Linked DNA regions of Homo sapiens. The protein of the gene in region 2 interacts with the protein of the main gene of each other region in a pairwise test. Each region holds a gene or a part of one and is shown on either strand. Other genes may lie near its edges.

What was found.
Region 1: the proteins of ZNF250 (region 2) and LZTS1 interact in binary tests that used the Homo sapiens proteins (3 or more experiments, as listed by UniProt).

Annotation. Positions count from the first base shown.
Region 1 is NC_000008.11:20,297,382-20,301,032, forward strand, and holds part of LZTS1 (leucine zipper putative tumor suppressor 1), read right to left. Parts: intron 1-3,651. UniProt on the Homo sapiens protein: Involved in the regulation of cell growth. May stabilize the active CDC2-cyclin B1 complex and thereby contribute to the regulation of the cell cycle and the prevention of uncontrolled cell proliferation. May act as a tumor suppressor.
Region 2 is NC_000008.11:144,884,448-144,888,098, forward strand, and holds part of ZNF250 (zinc finger protein 250), read right to left. Parts: intron 2,456-3,651; coding exon 2,393-2,455; intron 1-2,392. UniProt on the Homo sapiens protein: May be involved in transcriptional regulation.

The DNA.
Region 1 (3,651 bases), about 120 Mb from region 2:
TCCTAGCTACATCCTACTTTATTGTGTTTGTTTGTTTGTTTGTTTGTTTTTGAGACAGAGTCTCGCTTTTTAGCCTAGGTTGCAGTGCAGTGGTGCGATCTCAGCTCACTATAACCTCCGCCTCCCGGGTTCAAGCAATTCTCCCGCCTCAGCCTCCTGAGTAGCTGGGACTACAGGCGTGCACCACCATGCCCAGCTAATTTTTTGTATTTTTAATAGAGATGGGATTTCGCCATGTTGACCAGGCTTGTCTGGAACTCCTGACCTCTGGTGATCGGCTCACCTTGGCCTCCTAAATTGCTGGGATTACAGGCATGAGCCATCACGCCAGGCCCTAGTTTATTGTTTATTGAGCTTAACATATATGCATCACAAGCACTTAGGGAAAAGGGAGATGGGGGGTGAAGTGAGCACAGAAAAACTGAGGAAGATTCGAATGCCCTCATCATGCTTGAATTACAATAAATACAAAAGTAACTGCATTCTTATAATTTTAAAAATCTCTTTTTCCTGCATATTAAACACTTGCCAACAATTCGATGAGCCTAAATCCATTTAATTGGTGAACCCCAATGACTTGGTAGTTACAGCCCAACATTGGGACTCAGAACAGCTGGTGTTCATATCTCAGCATTCCTCTTAAAAATCTTGCATAAACTCTTTCACCTTTCTTTTTTTTTGTTTTTTATTTATTTTTTGAGACAAAGTCTTGCTCTGTCACCCAGCCTGGAGTGCAGCAGTGTGATCTCCACTCACTGCAACCTCCACCTCCCGGGTTCAAGAGATTCTCCTGTCTCAGCCTCCCAAGTAGCTGGAACTACAGGCGTGCACCACCACACCTGGCTCATTTTTGTAGTTTTAGTAGAGACAGGGCTTCATCATGGTGGCCAGGCTGGTCTTGAACTCCTGACCTCAGATGATAAGCCCACCTCAGTCTCCCAAAGTGCTAGGAATACAGGCATGAGCCACCGTGCCCAGCCCTCCTTCAACTTTCAAAGGCGCACTTGGTTTCCTCATCTGCCAAATGGCAAAGGGAATCTTCTCACAGAGTTGTTGTGAGGTGTAAATAATAATAATAATAATTTTATTCCACTTTTTAAAGTGTAAAGTCCTGTACAAGTAAAAAGCGCTATTGAAATCACCATTAAGGAAGTCTAGGGATGGTGGAAGTCAGTGTCCAGCAGGAAGCAACAGTGTGAGGCTGGATGCGGTGGCTCACACCTAGAATCCCAACACTCTGGGAAGCCAAAGTGGGAGGATCACTTGAGGCCAGGGGTTCAAGACCAGCCTGAGCAACATAGCGAGACCTTATTTCTACAAAAATTAAAAACAATTAGCCAGGTGTGTTGGTATGCACTTGTGGTCCCAGCTACTTGGGAGTCTGAGGAGAGAGGACTGGGGATCACTTGAGCTTAGGAGGTCAAGATTGCAGTAAGCTGAGCCGTGATCACATCACTGCACTCCATCCTGAGAGAAACAGCAAGATCTTGTCTCTAAAAAACAAACAAAAAACCAGTGTGAGAGACACAGGATGAAAACTGCAGCAAAACAGAGGGCTTTGCCAAATGGCAAAAGGAGCTAACTAGCCGTAAGCTCACCAGCTATGCTCGACTGTAGCTGACACATCCCCATCAACTTCTCCAACCCTGGGAGGAGGGATCTGGAGGCTAATTTGCACGCTGGCTGGAGGCAGTGGTGAGAGGTGAGAGGTTGAAAACCTCCCATTTTTTATGCACCACCTCTGTTTGGTCTGGGTGGCTGGCCAAACCCAGCATAAGGAGGCAACAGGCTCTGGCTAAGGTTCTTGGAAGAGAGAGCCCTGTCTCCTCAGCTCTCAGCTTGCATCTTGGAGCCATGAACTTGGCTCCTGCTTCGCTGACTCCCTTCATACCCTCCTCAGGTTCAACTTCAAGGTTCAGTTCACAGCCACCTCCTCCCTGGTAAGGAAGGTTCTGGCTCACCTGCCTCCTGCTGAGAAACTGCTGTATTCAAAGTTAGTATTTTAATTGCAAAAACCACAATTACTTTTGCAGCAACCTAATACAATCCAGTTTTCAACTTACTTGTCATTGGTTCAGGTGTGCCAGTTCTTCTTCCCAACTGTCATCACAAATTTTAGTCTCTAAGCATTATTTCGTCTTTTTTGCTGTTATTCCCCACTCCCTGGCACCTCACACGGATAAGACCTTTAATAAATAGTGAAATGCAGAGTTTTTCAAACTTGATCAATGATCTTTAAAAGAAAAACTTAAATCGCCATGGAGCCCCGAGAACACAGGTAGTAATTCCTATATGAGAAATAACAGGGCGATGGAAAGGAGATGGAAGGAGAATCACTTGACTGCGTCGCCTCGGAGAAATCATGGCCAGATTACCTCCCCAAACATGGTAGCAATTCACACTCTCAACTGCAAGCCTAGGAGTGTCCATTTCAGGCTTCAAACTGTAGCAGCACAAAGATCTATTCAACAGCAAACTCAAAGAGCTAATATGTAAATCACCTCAAGATTCCCCACGTAGTTGGATACTTCTTTGTTGGCAAAATCCCAGAAACATCTCATCATTGCCCTGGAACCATGTGGCGGCTCAAAGTGCAGGATTTTAAAACCCCAGGTCTAGGTCACACCTAGAATGGTCCCCTTCCATAACTGTGCTTGTGGGTTGATTGACCTGGAGATAGAGTGGGTGGGGGCGAGTGTTCCCTCGGACTCCCGAACTGTTGGTGGGGCCTGAGATGGCCCCATCTAGGGAGAGGCCTTGAAGGAGCTGGCCCAGTAACAGAGGAAGGAAAGTCAGTGGCCACACTAGCAAAGGGCACCCATGCAGAAATCCACTGTTGGGAACAGTGCTCCCTGCCAAAGGTCTCTGAGAGCTCTCATCTTTCCCCTTACCTTATTAAACAAGCATTTACTAAGGGCATACTCATAGTATCTACTGAAAGCCAACACTGTATTTTTTTTTTCTTTTTTGAGACGGAGTCTCTCTCTGTTGCCCAGACTGGAGTGCAGTGATGTGATCTCGGCTCACTGCAAGCTCCCCCTCCCGGGTTCACGCCATTCTCCTGCCTCAGCCTCCCAAGTAGCTGGGACTACAGGTGCCCGCCACGACGCCCGGCTAATTTTTTGTATTTTTAGTAGAGACGGTGTTTCACCGTGTTAGCCAGGATGGTCTCGATCTCCTGACCTCGTGATCCACCTGCCTCAGCCTCCCAAAGTGCTGAGATTACAAGCGTGAGCCACAGCGCCCCGCCGCCAACACTGTATTTTGAGCTGGGAACTCATGATGCAATCTCTGCTTCTAGGAGTTTTGTAGACTCCTCAGGAGCCAGTGAGTAAATGCCATAATATACTGGTATGATGGTAGGGACTCTGAGGAAGGTACCTGACTCAGAATTGAGGAAAAAACAGAGGAAACTTTCTTGGAGGAGTTGATCCCTATGGTTAAAACCCACAGTGGGGCTGGGTGTGGTGGCTCCTGCCTGTAATCCCAACACTTTGGGAGGCTGAGGCCAGCAGATCACTTGAGGTCAGGAGTTCAAGACCAGCCTGACCAGCATGACAAAACCCCATCTCTACTAAAAATATAAAAGATTAGCCAGGCGTGGTGGCAGGCGCCTATAGTCCCAGCTACTTGTGAGGGTGAGGCAGGAGA
Region 2 (3,651 bases):
TTCACCATGTTGGCCAGGATGGCCTCAAACTCCTGACTTCGTGATCTACCCACCTCGGCCTCCCAAAGTGCTGGGATTACAGGCAGGAGCCACGGCGCCCGGTCCTGAATTCTTTTCAAATGTTTTTTTAAATCATGAAGCATGCTTCTGTGAAGATTCTCCTATGTTTCCTGGTGCTTACACACAAATGTCCTTGCTGTATACATATGCAAGAGTGGGAAGTGGTGAACATAGGAATTCATGTTTTCGATTTTTTTTTTCATTTTTTTTACCTCCATTCTCTCAGAATGTGATCATGTTTTCAATTTCATTGGATAATGCCAAACTTTTCCAAAGTGGCTATGTGAATTTACATCCCTATTAGCTGCCCTGCATCCTCACCCACATGTTATATTGTCAGATCTTTCCATTTTTTCCATTCTGAAGGTGTAACATCATGTCACAGTGGTTTTGATTTCCACTTTACTGATGAATAATGAGGCTGAGCAGTTTTCTTATTTATTGGCCCTTTGGTTTTCCTAATCTATGCAGAAATTTGTGCCTACTTTTCTTTTTGGGTAATTCTGCGTCTTTTTATTCTATTCAGAGGAATTTATTAAGTGTATTGACAAATTGAAACAGTGAGAATTTAACAGTTTTTTTAATAAAAAAATTTAAATTCACTGTCTTCAGTTTAATACAATTTTTTTGAGACAGAGTTTCGTTCTTGTTGCCCAGGCTGGAGTGCAATGGCACGATCTCAGCTCACCGCAACCTCTGCCTCCCAGGTTCAAGCGATTCTCCTGCCTCAGCCTCCCAAGTAGCTGGGATTACAGGCATGTGCCACCATGCCCAGATAATTTTTTGTATTTTTAGTAGAGATGGGGTTTCACCATGTTGGCCAGCTTGGTTTCAAACTCCTGACCTCAGGTGGTCCATCTGCCTCGGCCTCCCAAAGTGCTGAGATTACAGGCATGAGCCACCACCCCCGGCCCAGTTTAATACAATTTTTAACATATCTCATTTTAGAAAGTCACTCTATGTGGGTTTTTTTTTGAGACAGGGTCTCACTCTATCACCCAGGCTGGAGTGCAGTGGTGTGATCATGGCTTACTGCAACCTCAACCTCCTGGGCTCAAGGAATCCTCCTGTCTCAGCCTCCATGTGGCTGGGATTACAGGAATGCACCATCATGTCTGGCTAATTTTTAATTTTATTTTGTAGTGTGGGGTCTCAGTATCTTGCCTAAGCTGGCTATGTGTTTTTTAAACTGATAGAAGTTTTAGTTCTTTCTTTTTTTAATGTATAAGCCTCATCTTCATGGAATAAAAGCCTATAGGCTAAAGAAATAGTTACTCATTTACACTGAAAAGTATTACTTCTATTGTCTGAAGTTTCACCCGGTGTGGTGGCTCATGTCTGTAATCCCAGCACTTCGGGAGGGCAAGGTGGGAGGATCACTTGAGGCCAGGAGTTTGAGACCAGCTTGCGCAACATGGTGAAACCCCGTCTCTACAAAAATTAGCTGGGCATGGTGGTGTACACCTGTGGTTATAGCTACTCTCGGGAAGCTGTTGTGGGAGGATTGCTTGAGTCCAGGAGGTTGAGACTGGTGAGCCGTGATTATGCCACTGCACTCCAGCCTGGGCAACAGAGTGAGAGCCTGTCTAAAAAAAAAAAAAAAAAGTTTCCTGAATGGGCGGCTTCTGACCTGATGCCAGGGTAACAAGATAGACAAGATGTCTTTAATAATAAAAACACAGGCCAGGCACAGTGGCTCATGCCGGTAATCCCAGCATGTTGGGAGGCTGAGGCAGGAGGATTGCTTGAGCCCAGGAGTTTGAGACCAGCTTGGGCAACACAGCAAGACTCTGTCTCTACACTGCACTCCAGCCTGAAAAAAAGAAAACACACACACACACTAAACTAACTGCATAAGAGACTACTCGCTCAATCATCCATGGCACGAAAGCATCATATGACTGCTTGTGAGACAGAATCAAGTTGCTGTGAAGGCCAAACTTGCCTGCACCTTGCATCCATACTGTGCAGAAGCTGGACTTCAGCCAAGAGTCACTTGCTTTTAGAATAATGGTTTTGGTTGTTAAGTATAAAGTAGGGAAGTATGTTTTAAGCATGACGGAACAAATAAAAGGAAACAAAATGATTTCACCGAAATAAATGTTTAATTATAAAAACCCAGTAATCTCTCTAGGCCTACTATGGCTCACAAGAAAAGGAAAAATGTTTTAAAAATTAAAAACACAAAAAGCCCCTCCCTGGTGTTTTGTAGCAATTGTGTGAGTTGTTTAACACGCTTCATAGCACCGAGTCGCCTCTACATTCTTGTAAAACATTAGTGTTAACACCTTCAGAGATTGTACTGAATTAAAAAGATCAGGCATACACTTACCCCATGGACAAGATAAACTGTCTTGTTGTGTACAGGCTGTAGTGTGGTCATATTTGAGGTTGTCTGGAAAAAAAACAGCGAGTTGAAGTGACAACAAAATACTCCCTTCAAGAGTGGAAAATCCTGGCCGGGCATGGTGGCTCACGTCTGTAATCCCAGCACTTTGGGAGGCCAAGGTGAGTGGATCACTTGAGGTCAGAAGTTTGAGACCAGCCTGGCCAACATATAGTGAAACCCCGTCTCTACTAAAAAATACAAAAATTAGCTGGACATGGTGGTGCATGCCTGTAGTCCCCACTACTAGGGAAGCTGAGGCAGGAGAATCGCTTGAACCCCGGAGACAAGAAGTTGCAGTGAGCCGAGATCACACTACTGCACTCCAGCCTGGGGGACAGAGTGAAACTCCGTCTCTCAAAAAAAAAAAAAAAAAAAAAAAAAAAAGAGTGGAAAATCCTTTCGTTGCTATTACAACATGTAATTTACTGAGTTACAAACAGCAGGGTCAGGGCTGGGCAGGTGCACACACTTATCCATCCTGAGGAACTGCCAGGACAAGACAAAGGCATATCTACTCCTCGCTTGCTCTGATGCTAGTGGCAGTGATCCAGGTTGTGGCAGGTGGCTTCTGTTTCTATGCACATCAGTAATCTAAAACTCAGTCCCATCGTCCTCTGTGGCCTGTGTTAGAGGTGAGGGGACCAGGTGCTTCCATGAAAAAACTTCTCATCTCCAACCAGCCATGCTCCCAGAGAATTTCACAGTCTCTGTGGTGTCAAATCAAAGGGCGCTCAAAGGCAGTTTAAGCTCTCCATCAGGCGAGTACATAGCTGGACACAAGGGAGCCCAGGACTGGTTTGGCAGTGGCAGCAAAATGCCCTCCTGTGTTTTCTTGTCTCCTACAGCTGCAGTCAGTAAGCAGAAGTTCTATGCAAGATTTCCAAGACATGATGATGTGTCTTCTTGTATAGTCACTGGAAAATTAAATTCCTCTAAGGCTGGCATGTACCTTGTTCCTCTGAGGATATCTGATTTTGCAGGCCAGTAAGAGGTAGACTGTAATACCTGGTGCCCTATCCACATAAAGCTACTTTAGAAATAAGGAGGAGCTTTCAAGGGGAAAACCACCACATCTGAAATGCTGAAGCTGATCAGCCAATGGAGGTGTTGCCCAAACTGTCCCTACTCTCCCCAAGTGGGGCACATTATGGCAGGACAGGCTGACTGAGGTTTTCCTAAGACTCAGACGTCACCTTACTGAA